7 linked regions of the Homo sapiens genome follow. The protein of the gene in region 3 purifies or fractionates together with the protein of the main gene of each other region. This does not show direct contact. Each region holds a gene or a part of one and is shown on either strand. Other genes may lie near its edges.

What was found.
Region 1: the proteins of NUP62CL (region 3) and SUGP2 purify together in Homo sapiens (affinity purification with mass spectrometry; one large-scale study listed by BioGRID and IntAct). This does not show direct contact.
Region 2: the proteins of NUP62CL (region 3) and NAV1 purify together in Homo sapiens (affinity purification with mass spectrometry; one large-scale study listed by BioGRID and IntAct). This does not show direct contact.
Region 4: the proteins of NUP62CL (region 3) and FKBP15 purify together in Homo sapiens (affinity purification with mass spectrometry; one large-scale study listed by BioGRID and IntAct). This does not show direct contact.
Region 5: the proteins of NUP62CL (region 3) and ZNF518A purify together in Homo sapiens (affinity purification with mass spectrometry; one large-scale study listed by BioGRID and IntAct). This does not show direct contact.
Region 6: the proteins of NUP62CL (region 3) and HIVEP2 purify together in Homo sapiens (affinity purification with mass spectrometry; one large-scale study listed by BioGRID and IntAct). This does not show direct contact.
Region 7: the proteins of NUP62CL (region 3) and KIF5A purify together in Homo sapiens (affinity purification with mass spectrometry; one large-scale study listed by BioGRID and IntAct). This does not show direct contact.

What each region holds. Positions count from the first base shown.
Region 1 is NC_000019.10:19,012,739-19,016,870, forward strand, and holds part of SUGP2 (SURP and G-patch domain-containing protein 2), read right to left. Parts: intron 1-4,132. UniProt on the Homo sapiens protein: May play a role in mRNA splicing.
Region 2 is NC_000001.11:201,824,670-201,827,973, reverse strand, and holds the end of NAV1 (neuron navigator 1), read right to left. Parts: 3' UTR 1,005-3,304; downstream 1-1,004. UniProt on the Homo sapiens protein: May be involved in neuronal migration.
Region 3 is NC_000023.11:107,203,430-107,208,191, forward strand, and holds the start of NUP62CL (nucleoporin-62 C-terminal-like protein), read right to left. Parts: upstream 3,005-4,762; 5' UTR 2,844-3,004; intron 1-2,843.
Region 4 is NC_000009.12:113,186,639-113,190,770, reverse strand, and holds part of FKBP15 (FK506-binding protein 15), read left to right. Parts: intron 1-192; coding exon 193-300; intron 301-2,279; coding exon 2,280-2,382; intron 2,383-2,871; coding exon 2,872-2,978; intron 2,979-4,132. UniProt on the Homo sapiens protein: May be involved in the cytoskeletal organization of neuronal growth cones. Seems to be inactive as a PPIase. Involved in the transport of early endosomes at the level of transition between microfilament-based and microtubule-based movement.
Region 5 is NC_000010.11:96,153,830-96,157,961, reverse strand, and holds part of ZNF518A (zinc finger protein 518A), read right to left. Parts: intron 2,637-4,132; 5' UTR 2,586-2,636; exon of another isoform or gene 2,039-2,585; 5' UTR 1,915-2,038; intron 1,766-1,914; 5' UTR 1,640-1,765; coding exon 1-1,639.
Region 6 is NC_000006.12:142,941,901-142,946,476, reverse strand, and holds the start of HIVEP2 (transcription factor HIVEP2), read left to right. Parts: upstream 1-1,300; 5' UTR 1,301-1,378; exon of another isoform or gene 1,379-1,676; intron 1,677-1,887; exon of another isoform or gene 1,888-4,576.
Region 7 is NC_000012.12:57,573,613-57,577,744, reverse strand, and holds part of KIF5A (kinesin heavy chain isoform 5A), read right to left. Parts: intron 2,662-4,132; coding exon 2,473-2,661; intron 2,106-2,472; coding exon 1,988-2,105; intron 1,659-1,987; coding exon 1,594-1,658; intron 1,477-1,593; coding exon 1,367-1,476; intron 985-1,366; coding exon 883-984; intron 33-882; coding exon 1-32. UniProt on the Homo sapiens protein: Microtubule-dependent motor required for slow axonal transport of neurofilament proteins (NFH, NFM and NFL). Can induce formation of neurite-like membrane protrusions in non-neuronal cells in a ZFYVE27-dependent manner.

The sequences.
Region 1 (4,132 bases), on a different chromosome or scaffold from region 3:
CCTGTGTTATAAAATCTTCCACAACCTTATTTGGATTACGTCGTCTACGCATTTCAGAGAAACATTAATGTCTCCTACCATGGTTTTGGATTCATCCAATTCCTCTTATCATGGTTTTGGACTTAAATGATTTTTTTTTTTTTGAGACGGAGTCTCGCTCTGTCACCCAGGCTGGAGTGCAGTGGCGCAATCTCGGATCACTGCAACCTCTGCCTCCTGGATTCAAGTGATTCTCCAGCCTCATCCTCCCGAGTAGCTGGGATTATAGGCACCCGCCACCACACCCAGCTAATTTTCGAATTTTTTTTAGCAGAGATGGGGTTTCACCATGTTGGCCAGGCTGGTCTTGAACTCCTGATCTCAGGTGATCTGCTCACCTTGGCCTCCCAAAGTGCTGGGATTACAGGCATGAGCCACCGCACCCAGCTCTGGACTTAAATGATTTCTAAAGGTTGTTTATTTACATGGCTCAAAGCTATGTAGTGCAGGCACCAAGATTCACAATCTATATGTTCGTGATGACTTTCCCTTTTATCAGGAACTTCTTTTGCTCCTTTTAGTGCTGTTCTCCTTAAAGTCTTTTTTGCCTAAACAATTCTCTACATCCTTTCTTTTTGGTAGCGTTCACCTGCTATGCAATTTCCCATCTCTGTGTTTTCCAATTCCTGTGTTTTTGCTTCTTTCTCTCTATAGTAGTACGGAAGTTATAGACCTCACTTCTGTTCCTTTAATGGCTAATCGACACACATACCTAAACTTTTATTTTGTATCAATATCCAGAATTACCCTTTAGCTCTATCCTCATGTCAAACAAGACAAAGGCCTGCACACCTACCTCCCTCCTTCCCCTTGTGCCTCACATATTTAGATCATCTGGGATTTTAGTTTCTTTTATTTCACCCCAAACATCAATTATTTAGATTTTATGTTAACTTTGGGGTGCTTGGACAATCCTGCTGAGGCTAGACCACAGGGATTCTTAGCCACTTGTTTTCCTGAGTGTGTGAACACGTAGGACCTGGTGGGCTCTCCCTGGAGAGCATGGTCAGGGCTGGCCCACTCCCAGGGGACAATTTAGAAGATGAGAGAAAACAAAGTATGACATATTCCTTCAGCTTTATATCCTGCACTGTTGTTATCATTTTCTAGGCTTGATGCTTTGCACTCTCTCATAGAAAAGGACGGAAGCCTGCCCCTTGGTGTTCCAAACAAGGAAGTAAAGCCATAGTGGATGTGTCTGTCTATACTTCTGATTGATTCATTGATTGATTTGAGACGGTGTTTTGCTCTTGTCGCCCAGGCTGGAGTGCAGTGGTGCGATCTCAGCTCACTGCAACCTCTGCCTCCTGGGTTCAAGTGATTCTCCTGCCTCAGCCTCCTGAGTAGCTGGGAGTATAGGCAGCCACCACCATGCCCAGCTAATTTTTTATTTTTAGTAGAGATGGGGTTTCATCATGTTGGCCAGGCTGGTCTCAAATTCCTGACCTCATGCGGCCCACTCGCCTCGGCTTCCCAAAGTGGTGGGATTACAGGTGTGAGTAACCGCACCTGGCTCTTCTGACATCTTTAGTGCACGACACGAGGCAGGTCACCTCGGCAAAGAGGCAATGGCCAGTTCTGTCCACAAGGCTCCAGTGGGAACAAATCATGCTTGTGGGGTGTGAGGGTGGAAGGTCTCAAATCTCTGCTGGCCCTCAGAGGGTGGAGATAAGAAGCCCTTCTTATATCTGCCTCCTAGAGGTCTGACTTTTTCACTTGCTAACTAATAAAAAGAATTTATTAAGGCTGGACATGATGGCTCATGCCTGTAACCCCAGTGATCTGGGGGATCGCTTGAGCCCAGGAGTTAGACACCAGCCTGGGCAACAGAGCAAAAACCCATTTCTTAAAAAAAGAAAAAAAAAAAAAAGCTGATAGCTGAATGCGGTGGTGTACTCCTGTAGTCTCAGCTACTTGGGAGGCTGAGGCAGGGGGATTTTGTGAGCCCAGGTTGAGGCTGCAGTGAACTATGATCATGCCACTGTGCTCTAGCCTGGGCAACAGAATGAAAACTCATCTCTTTAAACAAAAAAAAAAAAGAACTTATTAATCCACATATATCTTCAGAGAATGTCAATGGTCATGCATAAAACTGTTCAGTCAAGAAAAAGCAACATAGGCTTATTAAGAGATACAGAGGTAAGCCAGGTGCGGTGGCTCATGCCTGTAATTCCAGCGCTTTGGGAGGCCAAGGCAGGAGGATCATGAGGTCAGGAGATTGAGACCATCCTGGCTAACATGGTGAAATCCCGTCTCTACTAAAAATACAAAAAAATTAGCCGGGTGTGGTGGCAGGTGCCTGTAGTCCCAGCTACTAGGGAGGCTGAGGCAGGAGAATGGTGTGAACCCGGGAGGCAGAGCTTGCAGCGAGCCAAGATCCCGCCACTGCACTCCAGCCTGGGGGACAGAGCGAGACTCTGTCTCAAAAAATAAATAAATAAATAAATAAATAAATAAATAATAAAAAGAGATACAGAGGTAGCCGTGAGAAGTAGTTTGAAGAACTAAGTGACTGCCTTCAAGGAGTGGAACATGGAAACAGGTCACAGCAGAAACATTTGGCTTTTCATTATGCGTTCAATTGACTGTTTTGTTAAATACAACATACAAGGAGCATTTTGACTTAAGAATTCAAACATGCACACCAGAAACCTAAGTTTAGCAGTTTCTTTACTTATTGCTGTGCTTTTGTATCACACTCTTTCCTCTTACAGTCTCTTGGTAATTCCTTCTCTTTTTTTTGAGACAGAGTCATGCTCCGTTGTACCCAGGCTGGAGTGCAGTGGTGCGATCTTGGCTCACTGCAACCTCTGCCTCCCGGGTTCAAGTGATTCTTGTGCCTCGGTCTCCCAAGTAGCTGGGATTACAGGCGCCTGTCACCATGCCCAGCTAATTTTTTGTATTTTTATTAGAGACACGGTTTCACTATGTTGGCCAGGCTGGTCTCGAACTCCCAACCTCAAGTCATCTGTCCCCCTCGGTCTCCCAAAGTGTTGGGATTACAGGCGTGAGCCACTGCACCCAGCCAGGTAATTCCTTGTGAAGGAGTTTTTGGATGATAAAGTCTCTGGGACCAACTCCTAAATCTTTCCTTCTTCAGGATCTATTCTATCAGCCAACCGCTGAGATTTTTATTTCAATCTATTTTTCATTTCCAAGATCCTTAATAGAATCGTTTTCATAGCAACCAGTGTCTGTTTCATGGATACAATATACTCTTATTACCTGAGACTATTCATTGCACATACATATTTATAGACTACACCTCCTCTTTCTCATAGTGACTCTGTCTTCTAGGGTGTCAGGAGTTGGTTGAGTTTGGTGATGCTCTTTCATGATACTGGTTTACCTCAAATATCAGTTCTTAGTTTGATGCTTATTTCTGGGACTACAGGCACCCGCCACCAGGCCCGGCTAATTTTTTTTTGTATTTTTAGTAGAGACAGGGTTTCACCGTGTTCGCCAGGATGGTCTCGATCTCCTGATCTCGTGATCCACCCACCTTATAGGTGTGAGCCACCATGCCCGGCCGCTTATTTCTGATTTTGTACCCTGCCCTGCCCCCTATCCAAACATACCCCTGACTCTGGCTTCCGTCTGCTGCCCCTGGTTATCAGTGGTCATGAGACCACTGGGCCATGTGCAGGGGTCATGGGGCAGAGGCACCAGCCCCCAGGCCTCTCAGGGCCTCCTATTCCTCCAGCCTAATCACCTTATCAACCACCTGTAAAGTGCCCCTGGGCCTTCTAAGTCTGGATGCCTTCTTACCAAGAGGGTCGGTATCTGCTTGCATCTGTCAATCTGACAATCCTTCAACATGCACACTGGTTCAGACCACAGACCCTGGATTTGAATCTCAACTCTGCCTCTTACTAGTTGTGGATCCTCAAGGCAAGAGGGCTCTTGGAGCCTCAAAGTTTCTTGTCTGTAAAATAAGCATAGCAAGAGACCTGCCTCCCAACGTTGTTTATGAGGATTCAACCAGCTAGTGCTTAAATCAGTAATGTGCTTAGAACAGTACCAACTGCACAGAAGGCACAAGTGTTTATTAAATAAAAAGTATTCAATAAATGATGCTGGGACAATTAGGTTA
Region 2 (3,304 bases), on a different chromosome or scaffold from region 3:
CTGTCATCACACCTATGAATAGCTACTGCATTCCAGTCTGGGCAAGATATACAGACTCTGTCTATAAAAAAAAATAAAAATTAAAAAAAATGCAGGGCAGAGTGGCAAGCATGTAGTGGCAGAAAGGATAGAATGTTGTTGGAATGGGAGGTTCTAGAGCAAACAGAAACAGGTATTTTTTAGTGAGCTGTTCAGGTTATGTGCCTTCAAAATGGTTCCCAGGAACCCTTATCAAGTGAGTTCATTCTCACATGGCAAAGGAAACGAGTTACCAAATCCTAGGTCACTTCCAAGACTGTGGATGCTGGACTGGTAACAATCAGGGATTAAGTCATCTCATCAGAAGATTACTTCAAAAGAAAGCTTTCTCAATTATTTATTTTTGAGTTGGGGGGGTCTTGCTATGTTGCCCAGGCTGGACAGGTGATCCTCCCACCTCAGCATCCAGAGTAGCTAGAACTACAGGTACACCCACTGCAACTGGCTTGAAGAGAGTTCTCAACACACTTGTCACCTCCCATGTTAAGAGGGCAGAGATGAGTTATGTTACTACAATTTCATAGGGAAAAGATTGCTTCTTGGACCCTTCAATTTTGCAATGGGGAATAGTAAGCCTATTTACTTTCTTGAAGTGGCCAAAAGAAGTTGAACTTGATTACAACAGCTTCTAATAGGTCAGTTCACTTTTACCCCAAGAAGAAAATTTAGCAAAGTCAAGAGGGTGGTATGTTTTCAAACACTGCAGCAACCCAGATGGAGGACTCCGGAGCCTTGATGTTTGGGCTGGATGTTTTGAGATCCGGTGAAGGATTCTATGTCCATAATGTGCGAGCAGGGGTTCCTCCCACCCCCAACCATGGGAGTCAGGAGACTCTAGCTTAGGGTTTCAGGTTACTTCTGGGTTAGGCAAATGACCACAAGCAGTCTGGCCTTGCCAATCAAGGAATGGGCCACAAGATAAATGGAGACAGAAACCAGGCAGAGAGGGAGCTAGAGAACCAGTGGACAGTACAGGAGATAACTTTATTGAAACGCAAATGGCATTGAACAGATGAATCTTGCTGGGAGGAGACATGCCAGATGGACAGAGGGCCCAGATTGGGGGTGGCCTCAGTGGTGATGAAGGAAGGCCTCTTCAGCTGGCTCTGGCATGAATTTTATTTTTAAATAATTTGTTATTTAAAATGAATTACTGAGGGGACAGCCCGGCTCTCTCTTCATGATTGTTACCGCAACTATATACAACAGTTTGCTTTCCAGATTCAATTTCGCTTTTTCTACATTAGATATAAAAGGGGGTAGGTTGAAAGAGGGGAGGGTCAAATAAAAAACATAAACACACAGACATACACATATCCTGGTTTGGGATTTTGCACCCAATAACTTAAAAAAAAAGTGTTGCAAAAACTTCTGCCCACTCTCCACCTGAGGAACACCATGCATTTGAGAAACACGGACTCTGTCACATAAACGGTGCTGCCTAAAACAGTATGGAGGCGGGGAAGGAAGCTAGCAGGGGTTGGAATTCATTTTGAAAAAAGATTGTTTTGTTAGAAAAAGCAAAAACAAAAAAGCATTAGAAAGTGGGAGCCACTGCACAGCAGTAGCCTAGAGACTGGCTGCGATATGGTAGCTCTGCCTTGATATCATCTTCGTGTCTTCAGGCATAGAGAAATGGCAGAGGAGCAGTAAGACCCCACAGGAGATGGCCAGAGGATCCACCATCAGCCTTCTGGGGACTGAGGAGGTGATCTTAGTGGAATTATTTTATACTCACCTCCCCCGGGGTTTAGTCCTTCCTCCAAACACTTAGTTCCAGGGCGCAGGAGACCTGTTACTAGCACTGTATGTTTCTTTGTGCTTTACCCAAGTTCTCATACAGGGAAAATTGACAAACTTGAAACAAAACCAGTTCTAAACAGCCTCATCTCCTCCATGGCCCAATCAGCTATTTTATGAGTTTGTAAAGATATGAAGCTTTTTTCAGATATTTTTTAAAAAGGATCTTATTTGGCAGGGTGCTGTGGCTCACGCCTGTAATCCCAGCACTTTGGGAGGCTGTGGCAGGTGAATCACCTGAGGTCAGGAGCTCCAGCACAGCCTGGCCAACAAGGCAAAACTCCGTATCTACTAAAAATACAAAAATTAGCTGGGCGTGATGGCGCACGTCTGTAATCCCAGCTACTCAGGAGGCTGAGACAGGAGAATCGCTTGAACCTGGGAGGCGGAGGTTGCAGTGAGCCGAGATCGTGCCACTGCACACCAGCCTGGGTGACAAAGCGAGACTCCTTCTCCAAAACAAACAAACAAACAGAAAACAACAAAAAAAGGATTTTATTCTGTCACCTTGGCTGAGTACTTCTGTATCCAGGTCCTGCTGTGGGGAAAAGAGAGGAGGAGCACAAGGACTGAAGTGCCCAGGTCTGTGTCTTCATTATGCAAGACTCTCCTATGAGCTGAGTGGAGTGTGGATAAGGGGCCTTCCTGGGATACTGGAGCCCTACACTGTTAGCTGCCATACAGAAGGAGGTTCTGGCCTGGTTCTCAGGCCCAGCAGTGCCCTTTATAACTCAAATAAAGGAGAGGGATGTTGCTGGGAGAACACGTTGTCATGGAAATACAAATTAGATTTTTTTTTTTTTTTTTACTTTTTCCATCCTATTACATAATCAGCTCGGAATAGATACAAATAATTCGGCAGAAGAGCAATCTGGAAGAGACCTCCAACTGCTTTTCCTTGTTGAAGCCCCTTTGTGTGCCAGGTAGTAATTTCCAAGGCATAAGGTTTTTCTCTGAAGGTTGTATTCAACTAGGAAAGACACAAACATTCTCCTAACTTCCACCCAAAAGCACACATACCTTTCTTTGTTAAAATCATAAATGGAAAAACAGAAACACAAGGAAGCATGAGAAAGGTGACTTTGAAATTAATGTTAAAGTCTGAATGACAACCTAGAACCTTCTTATTTTGGGCCCCAAAGCCTCTCAGTGTGGGAACTCCAATACTATAAAGGGCTTTCCCTTTAAAACAGTTGAATTTAGTGTGCATCAGAATCACCAGGAGGGCTTATTAAAACGTGGATTGCCGGGTCCTCTCATTAGAGTTTCTGATTCAGCAGATCTGGGATGGGATTGAGAATTTTCGTTTCTAACAAGTTCCCAAAGGCTGCTGATGCTGCTGGTCTTGTGCCATACTTTGCGAACCACTGCTTTAAGGAATGAGAAACCAGGGGATCACTCACTTACTTCCATGACCACCCTTGTCACAGAAAATTCTCCATGGTATAATCATGAAGAAGAATGA
Region 3 (4,762 bases):
GAGATGGGGGTTCACTGTGTTACCCAGGCTGGTCTTGAACTCCTGGATTCAAGTGATTCTTCCGCCTCAGCCTCCCAAAGTGCTGGGATTACAGGTGTGAGCCACCGCACCTGGCTACATCTCCCTTTTCAAAGGACACATAGTATCTTATTTTCTGTTGTTGGTTAGTTAGGCTAAGTAAATTACAGCCAACTCACTCTACGAAATATTAGGTTGCTGTTAATAATGCAAAATATAAAGATCATCACAACACAGAAAAAAATTTCCAAAACAGTATTAAATAAAAATAACAAAAAAGTATATGAAAAAGGATCACAATCATGTAAAAACATGGGTACATGTGGATAAAGATAGGAGGGGAACAGAATTATCAGTTATATTATGGTAGCAGAATTGAGTGAGATTTTTCATCTTTAATTTCTTTCAATGTTGCATTAATAAATTATTTAACCAGTGTTTTAAAATACTCTATATAAAAGAATTAGCTAAACTATATCCATTTTTCATAGCTATAAATCCACAGAAACCTTTGGGTGTATTTTAAAAAATATTTTAGATCTCTCAGGTTTCATTATTTTTTTTCCCTTTAAAAAAACCTTTATTTCACCATTATTCTTTTTTTTTATTATTATACTTTAAGTTTTAGGGTACATGTGCACAATGTGCAGGTTAGAAGTTTCATTACTTTAAAACCGAACTAGGAGTCAAATTCAGTTGTCTCTCCTTTGGGATAGGCAAGTTAGGGAAGCTCTCTTTCTGCTTCAACCACTGCCTCCAGATTGCGGCTGCTATCAAGGCAGAATGGACAAGAATATTAGAATAAGGAAGTGACTTCTAGTCTCGGAGATCCACTTACTGACAGCACAATCCTGGGAAAGTCACAGAACCTCTCTAATCCTTATGTTCCTCAACCTCTAAGCTTCTGTATTTCCGACATTGTTCAGGGAAGCCAACTGCTTAAAGATTAATCTCAGATCCTGGACCCATCCCCCACCCCGCTACTTCCTCTACCTGGGGAAAACAGTTCTTAGTATTGGACGCCACCTTGCCAGGGACAGATGAAACCTTGAAGAGTTGATTATATCCCTAAAGATAAATAACATTTGTTCCCCAAGAAGAAAACTAATATTCACTGAACACCTGTGCACTTGACACTGTACCAAGTATTTCATATATGCTATATTGTATATCTTCCTGGGTCCCACTAGACCACAGAACCAATTTCTGGAGGGAGCCAGGGCAATCTGCATTTTAAATAAATTATTTATTTAAATAAATTTTAAATAAATTATTTATTTAAATAAATTTTAAATAAATTATTTAAATAAATTTTAAATAAATTATTTAAATAAATTTTAAATAAATTATTTAAATAAATTTTAAATAAATTATTTAAATAAATTTTAAATAAATTATTTATTTAAATAAATTTTAAATAAATTATTTAAATAAATTTTAAATAAATTATTTAAATAAATTTTAAATAAATTATTTATTTAAATAAATTTTAAATAAATTATTTATTTAAATAAATTTTAAATAAAGTGCACACACAAGTTTGAAAACTAAAGGTCTAGGGACAAATCATTAGGGTGTTGTGGTGTACATTTTTTAAAATGTAATGGAAATTATCAGAGTATATTGCAAGTAGTAAGTGTTAAGTGTTGTTTCTGTAAAAACAGTTGTCGGTTATATATTGTCTACATGTGTACTAGGTCACAATATAAAATTTATTTCTTACTGTCGGTCACAGTCAAAAGGTCTGAAAAACACCGGCTGAGCATTACAGACTTAGAATAATGCACAGTGAGGCAGAATAAAAACAAAAAAGCAAGAAGAAGGAGATGGCATAATATCTATAATTTAAGCTCCACAAGTATCTAGTGAATTAGCAAAATGCAAGACAGCTAAACTCTGATCATTCACAGTAATAAGCGGAATTAAGGTATTGGTAATTTGGCCAAAAGGCCAATAACGTTACTTTAGCCAATAACCTTATTCTACCCCCATTTTTTGTTTACTGTAGATAAGAACAAGTAGAAGGGACAAATTAATCAAACTTCACTATCTCTTATGCCAGATGGGATGGTCGTTAAGAAATGCATGGTATATAGAAAGAAGGGAAGCAGTTTAGTTCATTCATAATCAAATTCCAATACCTGAATAACCAAAAGTAACCATTCATTAAAACCTTCTGTGGGGTCCTACTATTGATCATGGCTAATCAGTCCTGAATACTCCAAATATTTATTACGCCATCCCCCCGCCGCCCCTTTGTTTAAAACCAAGCCACGGAATTTATGGGAAACTAGGGTAACAACTCTATCTCTAAGTGAACTTAAGACAACCAGATTCCCTAGCAGTGGCAAGCGAGCGGCGCGCCTGCTTTTCTCCACTCCGAGGCGGGAAAAGCAGAGCTCCCGGAGTCGCGATGTTCCTTAGAGTGGGAACGACACGTAGCTCAAGCCAGTGCCCCACAGGAACCGGGTGGCAGTTGACCAGGTGCTCCCCCGGGGACTTGGGGCCCGGAAGCCTTGCCTACAGAGGAGAATAAAAAGCGCGATCCCACCTGCACACATACAAACACACTATCGCCCGCGACAAGCCAAGACAGAAGCACAACACGTGTTTCTGTCGCGTGGGGGAGACGTGAAAGGCTGGGGGCGTGGAGGACTGTAGCAAAACCTTCTCTACCCCCGGCCCACTGACCCTACCCTTCTGCCCCCGTCTCTCCAGATCGGCTGGAGTTCGAGTCCTCAGATCGGGAATTCACGCGCGGGAAAAGCGCAAAAGAGAGCGAAGCCTGCTGACGAACGGGACAAACGAAAACCCCACAAACTTACCTTACTGGCAAGTCGCCGCCGCTCGCTGTCCGGCCCTGAACTATACGGGCAGGCCTCCGAGACTGCTAGACGCCAGAGGGGCGGGTCCGGACCTGCTCGAGCCGGAAAGAATCGGCCTCCTTAGTGGGCAGGTTCCCGCTGAAGTGAAGCTAACCGAGACTGAGGCTTAAAAGGGGTCGACCTGGTTAACTAGAAAGGGCGACCAGTGACCCTGACCTGGACGCGCTCGGATTGGTCGATTCCAGTGCAGTCTCAGATGAGACTCTTCTATGATTGGCCAGAAAAGTCAAGCGGGAACCCGGAGGTTGGCAGGTGGGGGGCGGGAACAAAACAAAGTTGTTACCCTAGCAACGGAGAGACGCCACGCTCTGCACAGTCTATTTTCGGAGCCTAGCCAGAGACGGGAAAACTGACCAAGGTGAGGAAACTCGAACCTCAAGACGGGGAAAGACAGGGTCCTCAGATGCTGTGGCTATCAGAAAAACTAGGGAGAACTCTAGATATTTATAACTCTGCGAGATACCCCAAAAAGCCACAAGTTGGGCAAGGTGGAGAAGACCCGTTCCCTAAATCCCGCTATCCTAGACTCTTCACTAAATCCCGCTATCCTAGACTCTAGAAACAGGACGCTGCTTTAACAAAACTCGGTTTTACAGGATGTGAGTGAAAGATGGATGCTGATCGACTGTCAGAAGGCAAAAGTAAACATCTGAAAGTTTCCCAACTGGTCTTCTCTCAACTCTCACATGCACTTATTGGTTCTCCCTTCCCATTAATAATGACTAATTTGGGAATGTAAACCATATTTTCTTATAGGAGGACCTGGGTGCTCCAAACTGGAGCAGCCACTGTACCCTTCTGTTTTATATGTGCAGGCACGATTTATCCTGGCCTAGCATGCCTTGGTTAGGAAATGTTTTGGGGGATATCACACTTCAGACTGAAAAAAAAATGGCCCCAGTACTTACTACGTGAATAATGTCCTTTGTGCGACAACTTGAACGCTGTGGTCTGAGGGTTCCAGTGTTGCTTGGTTAGATAAGCTGAGGAGTGAGAAGTAATCAGACCTTCACTTGGTGGGCCCGAGTGTACTGTGCAGAGACTACTTGTACCTACAAGACCTGCTACTCGCCAAGGGCTGATTGGGAGAGTAAGTATTACATGTCGTTTGACTGTAACTATCAAAAGGTGGGGAAGTGTGACCAAAAAAATTAAATCTGAGTGAAGGGAGAGAACCTAGTTTGACCAAAGAGGGAGGAGTCATTACTCCTTAAGAGCTTCTTGTGATAAGGATTCAGAACAGAGACCATATTTCCTGAAGAAAGGAAAAAAATAGGACTAGGGAGAAAATTTAAAGCACAGCAAGAAAATTTGCCAGGCCGAGCGCGGTGGCTCCCGCCTGTAATCCCAGCACTTTGGGAGGCCGAGGCGGGCAGATCACTTGAGGTCAGGAGTTCGAGACCAGCCTGGGCAATATGGCGAAACCTGGTCTCCACTAAAAATACAAAAATTAGCCGGGTGTGTTGGCGCCTGCCTGTCTGGATGCTGAGGTGGGAGAATCACCTGAGCCCTGGAGATCGAGGCTGCAGCGAGCCGTGATGGCGCCACTGCACTCTAGCCTGGGCGACAGAGTGAGATGTGGTCTCAAAAACAAAAGAGTTCTCATACTCCACCTGTATCTAAAAAGAGTCCCTCCAACTTCTTTTTAGATAGAGGTGGAGTATGAGACTTGAGATAGATAAACGAAGAGAAAAAAATATTAAGTGTATTGTTTGTCTGAAATGTACTATAGAGCATTCGATAATTCAGGATGGGTTCTACAGATACCAAGGATTTGCCTCTCCATATTAAAACTAATTTTTCTGTCAACTCAGCACTTTGAGAGTCCTAAGCGAGGGATCACTTGAGCTCAGGAGTTC
Region 4 (4,132 bases), on a different chromosome or scaffold from region 3:
TTACTGCTATTAATTGTGATCCATGTATACTTCTATGCAAGAAATCTTTCTCATTTTCTAGAGGAAATGTTTTTAAATAGATATGGTAGGGGGATTTGTTGAAGGATTTGATACAAGAGCCAAAGGGATAGAGCTGCCTGAAGGTGATGAGCTTTAATCACAGTGATTTTTGTGACTTTCCTCTCTTTTTAGAGTCCCGATGCAGTCAAAGCCAAGTTGATCTCTCGGATGGCTAAAATGGGCCAGCCCATGCTGCCCATCCTTCCACCACAGCTGGATTCCAATGATTCAGAAATCGAAGTATGTCCCCCTGGCTGTATTAGAATGAATAGTACAGATGTCGCCATCATCTTTCTTTTCATTTGGTTGGAGTGATTGTTTTTTCTCTAAGGCAGAATCATTATTTAGAGAGCTAATATGCAAAATGATACAGATTGGTATTGGTACATGTGTTTCTACTGTGATTAGTACTTCCCTGAGAGATGGAAGCAATTTTGTAGATCTTTTACAAGAACTGGGCAGTTTTCAGTAGTTAATTTAGCCTTCTTTACTAGAATCTCTGTTGTTACTAAAGATCACTCTCTGGGCAGCATGATGCCCAATCCATAGCAGGTGTTCAATTCATATTTATTGAGCGAATGTTTAGATTCTTTTGGGAAATGTTGGTCTTCTCGCTGATGTTGCCTATCACTAAAGCTCCAACTAGTATGTCTTTTGACTTTGTATGTGGTATTCTTGTGTTTGTTTTCTATTTAGAAGTTCAATAATTTTATTGAATTCAAGTCTGTCAATTTTCTCCCCTTGTTATTTGCTTTTGACATTATGCTTAGAAAGCCTCTCCACTTTCAGATTATAAATATCACATGTATTTTTAAAGATATTGATCAATATTTTATAATTAGATCTAAATTTTTAATCCATTTGGAATTTGGTGTATGCTATAAAGTAACTTAATTTTAACTTAATTCTTCTCTAGTGGTTAGTTCTTTATTGAATATAATCGTCCTTTCTCAATTGAAGTGAAATATATAACTTAGACTGATTTTTAGTATTCTTTTACTTTGATAGAAAACAAGGAAAGGGCGATGGTCTTGAAAAAATTTTTTCTGGAATATACTTTATATTTTACATTTTTGTTTTATTTCTTGGAAAAGCTCTATGTAGATTTAACATCTTAAAGGAAGATAGGATTTCTGAGGCCTATTGTTATAGGATTATTTTTTTCTGGTCTGGAAATGCAGTGTAAATAAGAATATTTTTATTAAAAATTTTATGTGCTACTTATTCATTTTAGAATAATTTAAAATTATAGAAAAGAAACATATTGAACAAAAAGGGCATTCATCTTTATATATTGCTTTGTAACCTGATTTTTAAACCTAATGTTGTATCATAAACATTTACATTAACATAAATGATTTAAGTAAATAAAGTGGTTTAAAGGAAACCCAGTGTTCCATTATATCATTTTATTATAATTCCTTTCACTCTGTTATTAGACATTTAGGTTGGTTAAGAGCTGTAGAAATCTAAAACTGGGATGTTTTTCTAGAAGAGAATATAAGGGGACAAGGTGAAGTTCTAAAGTAAAAGAATGTCTGAAACTTTGGTCTTTGAACTATAGCATAGCAGATTACAGTCACTGTATATTGTGCCTCAAGATTTTCTGTTTCTTATATGAAGCAGGAGGTAGAATAACTTTGTTTAGAGTTATAGCTTTGATTTTATGAAAAGCTTTGGTTTTATGAAAATAAAGAATGTTGGAAAAACATCCTAAAACTATATTATCCAAAAACAGCATGTTAATCAGGTGCAGTGAATCCTACGTTATCTGATTTTCATTGAGTACCTTGAGGACTATGGGGATGATTTGTAAGAAGCGAAGAGGCTGGATTATTTCTTGCAAAAGACCACTTTTTTTGTGGGAATAGATTAGATTTGTCTTAAGGCAGTTACTGGCTTGGAAAATGATACATTCTGAAGAGTGGTTAGTTTAGCTGCTTCAGACAATAGAACATCAACCTCTGAGAATATTTGTGGAAATTAACTATATTTACTTATTCAATATGATTATAGGGAGAAGGACTCTTACTTTATTGCATAGCAGAGTGCTTTTTCTCCACAACCCACACCCTCAACTCTTGGCCTTCCGCTTACCTTTCCTTCCTCTTCTTTGCCTAGAAATCCTGTGTTGGAAGCAGGTTTAGGGCAGACAGTCAGCCTCAGTCTTCAATGAGGGACCCCGTACAGAGTAACCCAAACGCTTGTTCCTGTTTCAGGATGTGAACACTCTGCAAGGAGGTGGGCAGCCTGTGGTGACTCCGTCCGTCCAGCCCTCTCTTCATCCGGCCCATCCAGCGTTACCACAGATGACCTCACAGGGTAAGGAACCTCTCTGAGGCTCTGTGGCCTTGAACTGGGTCAGCATGAAAATTATCGTCACTGTTCCTTAAACTGTTAGGCTGCATTGTTTCAGTACTGAGGACTAAAGTGTAAATGTAAGAGTGTGACGCTTGTCAGTTTGTCCCTGGGTAAGGCATTTTCATACCCAGAGATGGACCTGGCTGCTGGTTGTGACTTCTGCTGTGTTGCACTGTCAGTTTTGGAAATCTGCACTCAGCTATTGAGACATCTCCCTGGGTGTGTTCTGCACTTCCTGTCGGGTGGGATCCTAGGGCTGAGTCAGAAGCACATGAGAGCACCCAGTTTCCTTCCACTGGCTCATTCCTGAGATTGCAGTAGAGCTGAGTGTAGGGAGACTAGGCAAGGAAAATAGTTGAGTCTGAAGCATGATAGTATGTAAGGTGCTAGTCTAGACTCACACCAAGAAGCAAGGGTGGATAACAGTGAAAATGTCTCCCTTTATCTTAGCACCTCAGCCATCTGTTACTGGGCTCCAGGCACCTTCTGCTGCCTTAATGCAAGTGTCATCTCTCGATTCCCACTCAGCTGTATCTGGAAATGCCCAATCCTTTCAGGTAACATTTTATAACCGTATTAATTATATCCTATAATTTGCTGTGGTTCTAGTCAGTCTCTTTTCTTCTTCCTGTACATTTCATACAGTAGCAGTTCCCCAAAGTCAGAGTTTGTAATTTTTTTCCCTTCCTTGGTTACCACTTTCTCATCTCTAAACCAGGCAAAGGATAACCTACGTTCCAGTGTCATAAAGATTAAATGCAAGAACAAGTAGAGCCCCTAGTACAACGTAGTAAAGATGCAATCAATGTTTGTTTCCTTTTCTTTTCACACATATCCAGTTGAAGCGTGTATATTCGCGTTCTTCTGTATTCTTTTCTACTAAAAGTTGGCAGGCTAACATTCTGCAGTATATTCAGCAGAATGGTATGGTTTAAAAGTGGAACCATGTGGAAAATGTAGCTTGACTCTGCTATCTAGTAAACTTTTCTTAAAGAAGGCCTTTTTCCTGTTATCACAGAAAACAATGGCAGCAGCCTGTTTGCCAGGGGTAGCAGACCCTTTCTTCTGCCTCAACACACTTGGTGGATAAGGCATACTGTCACTGGGAACAGCTGCTCACTCCTTGTGATGCTTAATGGAGGTGTGGGAATGATGGTGGATAGGCTATGCCTCATTAACATGGGGAGTCTCGAAACTGGAAAAAGTCCCACTGTTGCCCTCTTTCTCCCCATCCCTCCTCTCCTCCATGGAGAATTACTATGCTGTAGACTAAGAATTTTTTTTAAGTGGATGCGTAGTTATATCTATCCCTGGAAATGAGCTAGACTTCCTTATTTCAAGGAAGAATTACCATCCTCATTAAAATAAAAGCTGCTGTTTATTAAGCGCTTACTATCTGTCAGGCCTGTAACTTACTAGCTTTTCAGAACTTTACCTATCTCACTTCATTTAGTCCACAGAACAGCCCTATGAAGTGATATTATTATCTTCCTCTTACAGTTGAGGTGACCGAGACTCAAAGGAACATGAGAGCTCTTGGTCTCGTGGATTAGCTTCAGAATCTAGCAGGGGAGAGGCATCCTTGGAAATTGGCAGATTTGGTTTGGAATCTCAGTGAGCACTTCTTCTTTAAACTCAATGGAAGCTAAGCAGAGTTTATTAATCTAAAAACTTCTTAGACAATAGGCCTGATAATGGGGAATGAATCCCT
Region 5 (4,132 bases), on a different chromosome or scaffold from region 3:
CATAATCCATTGTTTGAAGCATATTATTCCTTTGAGATATCAAAGTCATTTCTTTTTCTGAACTTGCTTTCCCTGAAAGTATAGAAGATGAACATGAAAATGGAGTAGCTGCTTTCATATAAACTGTGTCATTTAACTCAGTTGTTACTCCTGTTAAAAATCCATTAGTGTCCAAAGTCTGGGGCTGCAAATTAGCAGTACCGTCCTTTGCAGCACCTGACTGTGAGCCTGGTGAACATACATTTTGTTTGATAGGCACCAATTTTAATACAATATGCTGTTTTCCATCCATCATCTTGAAGCCCATAAACGTAGCATTATAGTTAGGGGAAACTGCTAGTTTATTATTTTTCATCATTACATTTTTCAGTGTAGGTCCTAGTACAGCAGTCTTCATGAAACCTGAACTAGCGTTTGGTCCCTCTTCAGCTCTATTACCTTGCCCAGTGGACAGAGGAGTTGGCTTCTCTGACTCTGATTCAGGGGCTTTATCATTATTCTCACAGTGTAGTCTTTCATCCTTTTCTTCACTTAAATGCTCTTGAACAACATGGCTCTGGTCTTCAGATTTAGTCTGTGTTTTGTTCATTTTCTTAAGCACTTGAGTGTTCTTTTCTATACTTCTGTCACTTCCACTGTTAATTTTCTTACGTTTCCAGAACGTCTTCCTTGATGCACCTATTTTATATCTTTTCAGTATTAGCTTAAGTCCTGCAGAAGTCTTTGCCATTCTTTTTTCATATTTGTCTTTTTCCAGTTTTTCTTTTGCATATAAATGTTCTTTGTGCAAAGTTATAACATGTCTTACAAGGTGTTCTCTCCTGGTGGCACCATAGCTACAATATTGACAAGTGAAGGGAAAAGTACCAGAATGAATATGAAGGTGCTTCTGAAGCTCTCCTTTGGTAAAACATACATGATGACATTTACCACACTTATAATGAATTTCATTATGTCTATGAATGTGCTGAACAAATGTGCCAACATCCTGGGTGGAGAACTTACACTTTTCACATTGAAAATTACCATTAACACAATGTGTGGATGTGAAATGCTTTGTCAAGTTCAGTAAAGTATATACACTCTCATTGTTACAAATGTCACATTTTACTAAAGTGCTTCTATGGGTTCGTCTGTGTTGTTTAAATACCTGAAAGTCATTTGCTGAAAAGTTGCACATTTCACAAGGATATGAAGGTAATTCGCCATGGTGCCACATTTGAAAGTGTTTCTGCAAATCATTTGGGCTATATCGAGTGTTGTCTCGGCATTTTAAACAGCTGAAATTGAGTATTTTTGCAGACATTTTTACACCCTCTTCTTCAGCTCTCTCAGACTTATGAAGCAATGTACACTCCTCTACACAGCTTACAGTCTTTATACTGATAGATTTTCTTGCAGTCTGCTGTTTACTCTGAAATAATTTTCTGTATTTGTCAACTTCATGTTTCAATAGGACTTCATTTGGAATATTTATTTTTGGCAAATCAATTTTCACATTTTTTAGTGCATAATGAATACTTCCTGAAATTTTTGGTTTAGGTGCCGACCTATCAACTATCTCATTTTTCACATCATAATCTTTTTTTAAAGTAGTTTGTTTTTCATCACAAAATAACTGTTTCTGTTCAGATGGCATGATTTAACCAAAAAAGTCCCAATTTCTTTTTTTCTGAAAACTCTTGAAGTTATCTGTAATTTAAACAGGAAACGATACTGTGTAGAGACATCTTCAATATACAGGATTTTTCCCACAATAACTCACCTAAAATTAAACAAAGAATTGAAATTCTCATCACAAAAATAATAGTAAATTCGTATCTGTAAGTTCATTTTGGCACAAAGTAGGAATGTTAATCAAAAACATAAATTAAATATACAAAAGACTTTTTAAGTATTTTAAGAACAGCTTACCAAGAAGTAATAGTTTGAAGTAAAAATAACACTAATCTGGAAGTCAGGAAATGCAAGCTCTAGTTCCAGCTCTGCTGTGTGACCTTGGGAAAACTTCAACTTCTCTGGACCTCAGTTTCCTCATCTAAAGAAAACCACAGTTGGGTAAGTACGCTCAAGCGCTAAGATTTTTATATTAAGGTGATAATACAGTTTTTAAACAAGATTTTAAAAATCTTAGAATCCTAAGAAGTTCCAATTACACACATGTGGTTTATCCATATACTATTAACTTTTTCATTTGCTTAGTTGATCTAATAGCTATTCCCTGTGAGAATCCCAACAGACTTCTCTCCAGATTTTCTATTTCCTTAGTTCCTCAGGGATAATCTACAATTAAAACAAAAGCTTCATTCATCTAACGGAAACAACCAAAGACGGTATCTGCTTATCATTACTAACAAGTTAGAAACCAAACAAAAAGAACAAAAAGGAAGAAATTAAAAAGAACAGCAGCACCATTTCCCTAGTGTAGTCCTAAAGTCCATCTACTCATTACCTTTCTGGTTCCCTACCATTTTGGCTATATGAATTTATATCCTCAGAACTCAAGCCAGATGACAGCAAGGAAAAGCCCTTGGCAGATTAGAACATACCCATCACTACCTACCTGCATTAATTCAAGCACTTACTGGTCATGTTACTTTAGACAAGTCTCAACCTCTGTGTCTCAGTTCCTTCATCTGTAAAATGGGGGGAAAAATTAGTACTTCCCCTATGTCTTTCACAAGGTTGTTGTGAAGATAAAATGAGAAAATATATGTAAAAATATCCTTTAAAGTGCCATATAAATCACAGCTACCACTATTACTCTATGTGATTACCACGTATGGGACATAACAATATATTGTTGAGACAGGAATCTGAATACTGAAGGTTCAGTCATTAATATATCAAACTGTATTATTAGAAAAATTACATGTTTTTAATTTTGTGCTTTATATATATATATATGTATGAATAGACAAAATCAGATAAGCTAAACAAAACATAGTATAAATCACATTAAGCTCCTCATCCATAATGTCTATCCAAAGGTCTCAGCTTTAAACTTCAATTAATCTAAATACCTACAAACTTTACTGTTTTAGAAATCCTTTACTGAGGGAATCATTAAAAGTTGAATTACATATTAAGAGATCTATAATAAATTAATCAGAAGGGTACCAATTATTGAATTGTTTTACATGCCATGACTAATACAGTAAAATGTGAATCCAGAATGGGATGTTTGTCATAAAACTTTAGTATTACAAAGAAAAGGTAACACAAGATGAAGGCCTCATGAAGGGTTTTTAGGGCCCTAAAAGAAGAAAAGCTGAAAAAGTAACTGGAACTGTCAGGAAACCAGGAGAAAAGGCTGAGAAGAATTATCTGATGGCTATTCTTAAACTAAGATGGGGCTTACAGATGATTTCAGAATGACTAGCCAAGCAGAGCACTTGTCTTTCTAGGAGAATGAACTAGACACTAATTGAAGGCTCTACAATCCAACAGTCAGGTTTTAACTCACTGCTTTGTTAAGAGAAAAGAAAAGAAAAAAAAGAAAAGAAGGCAGGAAGGAAGGAAAAAAAAGAAAAGAAGGAGGGAGGGAGGGAGGAGAAAGAAACGAAAGAAGGAAGGAAAGGAAGAAAGGAAGAAAGAAACAGAGAAAGAGAAAGAAAGAAAAGATTGATGACAGGGTCTCACTCTGTCGCTCAGGCTGCAGTGCAGTGGCACCATCACGGCTCACTGCAGGCTTGACCTCCCCAGGCTCAGGTGATCCTCCCACCTCAGCCTCCTGAGAGCAGCAGGGACTACAGGCATGCGCCACCATACCCAACTAATGTTCTGTATTTTTTGTAGAGATGAGGTTTCGCCATGTTGCCCAGGCTGGGTGTAGAAAGAATTATATGAGTTGATTAAAAAGAAAATAGTATTACTAAATCATGTGTTCAGTTCTCCTTCAGGGACTAGGGCAAGAGTGGGGAAATGGAATATATGAAGAGGTAGGAAATCAAACTGTCTAATCTCGTAAGATACTCTAATATGTGACTCAGGAGTCAAAATGGTTGTGAAAACATAACAGACAGCTTTTCCTTCTCTAATAATGCCTCACTTAGACCTTGAGAATAGGATTATTAAAATGTAATACATACTTTTTCTGTTTGTGGGTATCAGAAGATTTTAGGTGCCTAGG
Region 6 (4,576 bases), on a different chromosome or scaffold from region 3:
TCAGCCTCCCTCCCTGGGACGCGCTGGGGGATCCGATGACGTCGTTGGCTGAGTCTCTCCCTCTTCCTCCCTCCCTCCCTCCGCCTCTCCCCCCGTCCGCCCTCGCCGCGCACTCCTCCTAGTAACTTCTGTTCGGGGAGGCGCTGCCAGGAATAACCCGGTGCGTCCACAGCCCGGGAGGGGAGGCGGCCGCTGCGGCTCCCGCACGCAGACAGCTGCGGCCCGGGCCTCGCGGCTCCCGCCTGAGCCCGGCGGCCCCTGCCCCGGGCCCATCTCCGTACAGTGTCAGAAAAATAAATAAAGGCAAGAGGAGCCTGGGCTGGCGGTCGGGATCTTTTCCCTCCCTCCGCGCCCGCCCTCCCTCTGTCCTTAAGGAAATGCTACCAGACACCCCCCACCAGACACGCTCAGCCTTGGCGAGGAGCGGCCGCCGCGGCAGCGAGAACAAGGGCACCAGGGGGGTTTCCTCCCCCTCCTCCTCTCCCTCCTCCTCCCCGTCCTCCTTCTCCTCCTCCTCAGCGGTGACTTTCCAGGTGAGCGGCCGCCGCGGCTGCGAGGATCCCCCTCGCCCGCTGGGGCTCGGGCCGCCGCGTCGCGCCCTCCTCCCGCCCCTGTCACCCGGCGGCGGCCGGGAGCTGACAGCCGCCCGAGGGGCTCGCGGCCCGGAGGCGGGCGGCCGGCGGGAGGCGGGCTGGAGGTGAGGGGGTGGAGAGGAGGAGAGCGGGGCGCCGCCGAGCGCCGTCGTTCCCCGCAGGAGGGTCTCCGCACAAACATCTTCGGTGACTGTGGCACAAGTCTTTGCCAAGTTGTGTCTTGGACCTTGACGCTCCACGGAGCCCAGAGCAACTTGGAGGGTCTCCCGGCTCGTTCACAGCGTTCCTCCACGTCTCGCGTCTGGGGTGCTGGGTGCAGCCTCGGGGTGCGCGGAGGGCGGACCGGCCACCGCGAGAGCGGAGCGGCGGGAATCTAGGTCCCTCCTCGGCTCGGTAAGTGGCCTGGACGCTGGGTTTTTCCTGCCTCCTTCGGCGCTGGGAGCTTGTTTCACTTTATATTGGAATCGCCGCCGCCGAACTCCGTCCCCCGCTCCCCGGCGTGTGCCCCCAGCCCCTTCCCGGTGGCCCGAGGGTGAGGGTCGGAGGGGGCGGGGATGGGGGAGACCGCGGGAGGGGTGTCGGGCGCGTGGGGAAATGCGGGGAATACCCTGGCCGCGGATCTATGCAGATGAGGGGAGGCTGCTTTGCGTAATGTCCTGGGGGGAGGGGGCCGCGCGGGAGCGCTGGAGGCAGGAATGTGCCTGCTTACTAATGAGCGACGTGCACCGGCGCGCACGGCCCGGCCACCGCTGCGGCTGCGGCGGCCGGCGGCGGCCCGTTGTCAGGTAGCGGGGGAGGGGGCCGCGGCGCGCGGCGCAGGCGGCCGGGCGGGCTGGCGGCGCGAGGCCCGGGCCGCCGGCCTGCGGCCGAGCGAGCGCAGCGAAGGCGCTGGCTCTGGGCATTTCAGTGACTCCCTTTACCTCCCGGGCAAGGAAGGAAGGAAGGAAGGAGCGAAGGAAGGAAGCGAGGAAGGAGGGGACTGTCTCGATGGAAGGTTCAGGCGGAGGCGCCCTCGCCTTGCGGGTGCACCGGCTGCAGAGCGGCTCTGGCCGCTGCCGGCTGGACCCGGGCGCGTGGAGACGGGTGGGGGCGGTTTGCATGCGTGTTTGTCTGTCCGTCTGGCGGGGGATCGGGAAGGGACATGTGTGTTTGGGCTGTGCACTGTGGGGAACTGGGTCTGCGCCTTTATGTCTGTTCCCTGAAGTGGGTGGAACGTTGGCCCGTTCCGGGAATGTTCCATGACGTGGTGCAGCCACAGGAAGGGGGTTAACGAGGGGCTCTCTGCCGCGGCGGCACTGCCGGCTGCTATCAAAGCAGATGTGCTGCTGCTGCTCCTCCTCCTCTTTCACCTCCTTTCACCCCCACCCCCCGCCTTTCCATTCTGTGCCTCTGGTACTGGTAGGGGTGAGACAGGAAAACATTGCTCTGGGTGTGTGCGTGTGTGTGTGTGTGTGTGGGTGTGTGGGGGAGGGGGTGCTGATGTGCATGTGTGGGGTCTGTCGTATTTGGTGGGGGGGGGGGGTGGACTCCAGATCCGCTCTGCTACCCCAGCTGTTATCACAGATCGGTGCGCTTTATACGCATGTGCCTCCCGCGTTCTGTCCCTCTTACATAACACATCCAGTGCAGCAGAGGACATGAGAAAATGCGACCCCAACCCTCCAAGCCCAAATTGGGTGAGGGGATAGAAGGTCAGGAAGCGTCCCTGGGTGTTGTCCTTCAGGGACTTGGTTCCCAGTGGGGGAAAGGAAGAAGGGAAGGAGGGTTTCTTCAAGTGGCTCCTCTCATCTCTGACTTAAAAGCATCTAACTAAAAAGGACTGCAGGCACTAGTCTTCCCTAACGGGAAAGCTTGTAACTAGCTACACCAAGGGAACGGGGGCACTTTAACCTCGGGAGTGCGGAGAAGAGAGAGGGTCCTTAATCAAGACACTTGGAGGAGAGAAGCAATAATGTGTGGGCGGCGGATGGGGGGCGCTGGGGATGACTTCGAGGAGACCAGAGGAATCTCTTGATAATAGGTTTCACTGGAGGCCTTAGGACACCTGTAATGGCTTAGCATTCACACAGGAAGTTGTGTGTGCAACTGACATTGCAAAACCCTTATTCTCTGCAGAGTTATTTAGGCCTAAAATGAATATAGAAAGGCTTGTTTCCTGTACTTTCATTATAATGGAAAATTTGAGCTGATTTTTCTCCTTCCTTTTCTGCCATTTTAAAAATAACTCAATTTACCTCCAAATGAATATTGGTACTCGCCCCCAACCCTAAAGCTGGACCTCAATAATTCACAAGAGATCTGTGTTTTTCTAGCATACCCAGAGCCCTAGTCAAGGGCTATTGATTTTTCTCCTCAATACAGTTGTTTCTTTTGTAGTGCATAATCAAGCCCAGACATTACTTGAAATATTAATAAGATCCATTTTAATTAAATTTGCAATGATCTGTCCTCCTAGAAAAAGGCCATTTAACTTTATTAGAAACGTTTCCTCCAGTGATATAGTAATATTTGGTGATATTTGCCCTTGAGCAAACCAAGTTATTTTAAATATTTGCACATATAGATCCCATATGTTTGCTACATATGTAGCAAATGTCTCATTGCTTTTTCACCTTATAAGAGTGCCAGAAGCAGAATTTTAACGAAGTAGACTGTGGAATGAGTAGATTGGGTTTGATTTTTAGGATATAGGCCAAATGGTTTATCAGAACAGAAATGTCCTTTCTGTGACTAAAGTGGGTATCATTTTCATTATTAAGAGAAAATTCCCTGTGGAACCCTAAGGAGTCATAGTACCAAATGACAACTGTACATTTGCATTGTGAGCTGAAAGGGATTTACCAGTATTTACTTAATGATAGTGTGTTTGTTTCAAGTGTCATAATCCCTTTGACCACTAGGTTTGAAATATGCAGTATATTTCTTATATACAGAAATGTATTACAATGATGAATCTTTTGAACATTGAGACAATTTCTTGCGTCGAGCATAGGTCGGGTATAAAACAAAATTTGCTTATTTGCATCTGTATTTTTGTTACAGTGACTGTATTTTATGTGGCTAACTTTATTAGAGATGGCTTATATTTATACAAGGGTATTCAAGAGTAAATTGATGTGTGACTGATTCGGGGACAATTTTGGGAATGGTGGTATATTAATGATCTTACAAATGTAAGATCTAACTGATTTTTAACTGGTTAGATCCTTGTAGAGGTGTTTGGTAAAATACCACTAAAGTACATAAAACATTTCTATATTCCTATTTAACATGGAATGTGAAAAATTTACTATGTGTATATTATCACATAGGAAAATAATTCTCTTTGATTACATTGAAAGATTAAGCAGCAGAATATTTTGATTGATCAGGCTCCTTTGCATGAGATGTGTTTGTGAATGTTCTTGTTACCATGAAAACAAAACAGAGGACAGTATATAGGGAGACGTTCCTTGTGGAGTAATGGTGCATGTGTCTGCTTGAACTTTTGGCACTTTGTCACTATTCAGAAGATCTGTTTGACTCTTTTATGCTGATTTAATTTAAAATGAAAAATCTTATTCCAGAATTTGCCATTTTTTTTTTTCAAAGCAGGGCTCATTTTAACAGCAGCAATAACAAATAACTCTGTGTTGTACACTGTATTGGGTTTCAGCTTTTGAATTATAACAAGTACACTATTTGGGTTGGGTTTCAGTTTTTAAATTATTATCAGTAATTAGCTAAAGTCAATTTGAAAGCTTCACATAGGAAAAGTAATTTTAAAGAATGATAGAAAATGTTAGTTGGCATGAGTGAAACTATAATCCATGAGGATGTAAAGTAATTTAATAACTGACATGTAATTATTATCAGAAGGGAAAAGTGGCTAAGGTCAATCGGATATATGGCTGTGGATCAGACAGGCTGCTCATCTCCTATTTGTTAAAAATAAACACCGTTTTCATATTTTGGTATGTGATCAGCATCAGCGGAACTCTCTG
Region 7 (4,132 bases), on a different chromosome or scaffold from region 3:
GCTTGGACTGCTCATGTCGCTCGTACAGAAATCTGTAGCAAGAGAAATAAGGGAAATGGAAAGATCCCTCAGGACTCTCCTTCCTCCTGCCTCTTCCTCTATTACTTTTATCTCCATTTAAGTATTACTATTATTGTTATTTTGTGAAACAGGGTCTCATTCTGTTACCTAGGCTAGATAGAGTACAGTGGCACAATCAGGGCTCACTGCAGCCTCAACCTCCTGGGCTCAAGGGATCCTTCCCACCTCAGCCTCCCAAGCATCTGGGACCACAGACGTATGCCACCATGCCCAGCTAATTTTTGTATTTTTAGTAGAGACAGGGTTTTGCCATGTTGCCCAGGCTGGTCTCGAACTACTGAGCTCAAGCAGTCCACCTGCTTTGGCCTCCCAAAGTGCTGAGATTATAGGTGTAAGCCATCGCACCCAGCCTATTATTATTTATTACACAAGTTACTCATGTTTACTGTGCAAAAATTAGAAAAGAATTTTAAAGAGAGACATAAGGTGAGTTTTTATAAAAAGCCTATGATTCTACTATTTACAGATCAAACCAACATTAACCTTCTGGTGTCCACCTTTCTAGACTTTTTTCTATGCCTACATATCCATGTATACATTTTTATGGGATCATACCATGCATATGGTTTTGTAACCTGTTTTTACACTGAATAGAACACGTAAACCTCCTTCCATACTGGTGAATACTCAACGGCAGTCTTTGCTGAGAGTGTCCTTTTGGTCCCGTCCCTACCCCATCATATTTTTCCCATGAGTCACCCTATCATGTCTGCATGTGTGTCCTGCCTCTGCAAGCGTGTCTGAGTTCACAGTTCTGAGCCTACAAGGCTGTAGTTTTACAGGTAAATCCATGCCACTCACGTCAGCTCCTGCAGCTTGGTGCTCTTCTCGTGTTCTTCGCTCTTCAGCTTCTCGTAGTCAGCCTGAAGCTTCTCTAGCTCTAACTGGAGCTTCTGATTTAGGCTACAGAGCATCAGAAGGTAATGGAGATGGGGGAGAAAGATGTTAATGAGGGGGAAGGGAAGGCCAGCTCTTCAAACTTCTTCCTTTTTGAACGAGTGAGTCCAGTTAGAATTGATGTGTCCACCTTCAGATACCAGAGGCAGACTCAGGCCACTGTTTCCATGACAGAGCCAGGAACCCTGACCTCTCTAATCCTGGGACCCTCAAGGATAGGGACTAGTCGTTATTCCATGTGTCTCCTGAGGTGGGGCTACGAAGTTGTGGCATTGTTGAGGGAATGACACATGGATGTTAAAGAATCAGACCCAGAGGGGACATGTGAGTCAATACAGCAAGGTGACAGGACCCGGGAGGGGCTGGAGTCGCCCTTGGGAACCCTTACTCTTTGAGCTCATCAATGGTCTTCTGCTTCTCGTTGATCTCGTCCCGGAGCCGGGCCAGCTGCCGGTGATGGGCCTCCCGGTGACTCTCCATCTGCAGCTCCAGAGCCTTCTGCAAACAACCCCACCCCAAGCTCAAAGGCCAGACTCCCAGCAACAAGCTCTGTGAGGGCCAGCACAGCTTTCACCACACCAGGCCCCAATTGTCCCTGACACCTTCCTTACTCACCTTCACTTCATCTGCATCCTGAGTGTCAGGCTCCTTGTCCTTCAGGGCCACTTCATGCACAGTTTCTAAGGGAAAGAGGGGAAGACAGCTGACATCAAACCTACCTCTTTCGGAAAGAACTTCACGTTGTGACCAGAACTCCAGGCAGGGCTGGGAATGGACCCACAGGGATGTTCTTCTGTGTTAGGACTGTCCAATTTGATATAGCAGGAACAGAGAACAAGGGTGTATGGTTAATGTAAAATGAGCTACATGCAAAACCTTGGCTAACATATGAGTTGGCATCCATGATTTCAAGCTAATGCTTTGAGTGAGTGATTATTGGGGTGATTTATTTTGATGTTTCTGACTTTTCTGCCCTGGACAGTGGGATGGAGGTATAAGAAGGCCTCACCCTGGGCCTGGAGCTTGGCCAGCTCATCGCTCAAGGAGTCATAGGACTCTTCCAGGTGCCGCTTCTTTAGCTCCACGCTCTGCATGTATTCCGTAAGCGAGCGGATCTTGGCCTCATGCTGGTGGGAGAAAGTTGGTGAGAGGAAGAAGATGGAGCAAAGGACACAAACCCAGGCCACACAGATCTCCAACTCCAGCTCTCCTCCCAGCCCTCCCTCCTGCTACACTTCCCATGAGGGTGCAGGGTTGGGGGCCATTCCTATGGGGCTCTTCCTTTAGCTCCCATGGCTCAGGGGGCAGTACCCGCCCTGAGCCTTTACTTTTTTGGCCCTGATCTGCACCCCTGCCACCCCAGCTTTTCTGTCCTTGATTTCACTTGACCCCAGAACTTTGACATAAAGGTGGGTGTTAGGAGTTTTAGCCATAACCCCAGAGTAGCCTTCTTTCTCCCATGGCATCTGAAGGTTCTCAAACTTAGGCACTCACCTGAGAGATGAGGAGCTGGCAGGATGAGAGCTCCCGCCCGGTCACTTCCATCTTGCGGTGACACTCCACCTGGAGGTTCTCCAGCTGCCGGCACCGCTTGACCACAGACTTGACTTCTGATTTGATTTTGCTGATGTAGAGTCGGGCCACAGTGAACTCCTCCTCGATGGCCCCACTGATCTCCACTGGCTAAGGTGATTAAAGGAGGAAGAGATGCTTCTTGGCTGCTGGGAAGCTTTATCTGTTCCCTCCCACCTTCTACCTACCCATACACACCCACATACGCAGGGACTCAAATGGGATGGGTATTTTCCAAACGACCTTTAGCAGCTCTCTATCAGCGGCATTTCACATTAAATTCCTCCGCCTGCATTTAAAAATCCAATTCTGGCTGGGCGCAGTAGCTCATGCCTTGTAATCTCAGCACTTTGGGAGGTCAAGGTGGGTGGATCACCTGAGGTCAGGAGTTCGAGACCAGCCTGACCAACATGGTGGTGAAACCCTGTCTCTACTAAAAATACAAAATTAGCCAAGCATCATGGCACATGCCTGTAATCCCAGCTACTCAAGAGGCTGAGGCAGGAAATTGCTTGAACCCAGGAGGCGGAGGTTGCAGTGAACCGAGATCACACCACTGGACTCCAGCCTGGGCGACAGAGTGAGACTCCATCTCAAAAAAAAAAAAAAAAAATCCAATTCTGGGCCGGGCTCGGTGGCTCACGCCTGTAATCCCAACACTTTGGGAGGCCGAGGTGGGTGGACTACGAGGTCAGGAGTTCGAGACCAGCCTGGCCAATATGGTGAAACCCTCTCTCTACTAAAAACATAAAAAATTAGCCAGGAGAGGTGGTGTGTGCCTGTAGTCCCAGCTACTCGGGAGGCTGAAGCAGAAGAATTGCTTGAACCTGGGAGGCGGAGGTTGCAGTGAGCTGAGATCACACCACTGCACTCCAGCCTGGGCAACAGAGCAAGACTCCATCTCAAAAAAAAAAAAAAATCCAATTCTGACAGTCCCCCACTTACAAATAAATCTTATAAAGCAACATGATTTTCTTTTGATCTCCTTGATCACCCAGATTATTCTCACATCCACAGATTTGCATATTTCATTCTGAACTCTGTGCCTATGCCCCACCTCTAACTCCTACTGCAAGCACTGCTCTGTTGCTGCTGCTTTTTTTTTTTTTTTTTGAGACAGAGTCTCCCTCTGTCACCCAGGCTGGAGTGCAGTGCCGCATCTCTGCTCACTGCAAGCTCCGCCTCCCAGGTTCACGCCATTCTCCTGCCTCAGCCTCCTGAGTAGCTGGGACTACAGGCGCCCGCCACCATGCCTGGCTAATTTTTTGTATTTTTTTAGTAGAGACAGGGTTTCACTGTGTTAGCCAGGATGGTCTCAATCTCCTGACCTCGCCTCGGCCTCCCAAATTTTTTTTTTTTTTTTTTTGAGACGGAGTTTCACTCTTGTTGCCCAGGCTGGAGTGCAATGGTGCAATCTCGGCTCACTGCAACCTCCGCCTCCAGGTTCAAGCGATTCCCCTGCCTCAGCCACGTGAGTAGCTGGGATTACAGGCATGAGCCACCACACCCGGCTAATTTTATATTTTTAGTAGACACGGAGTTTCTCCATGTTGAACAGGCTGGTCTCGAACTCCTGACCTCA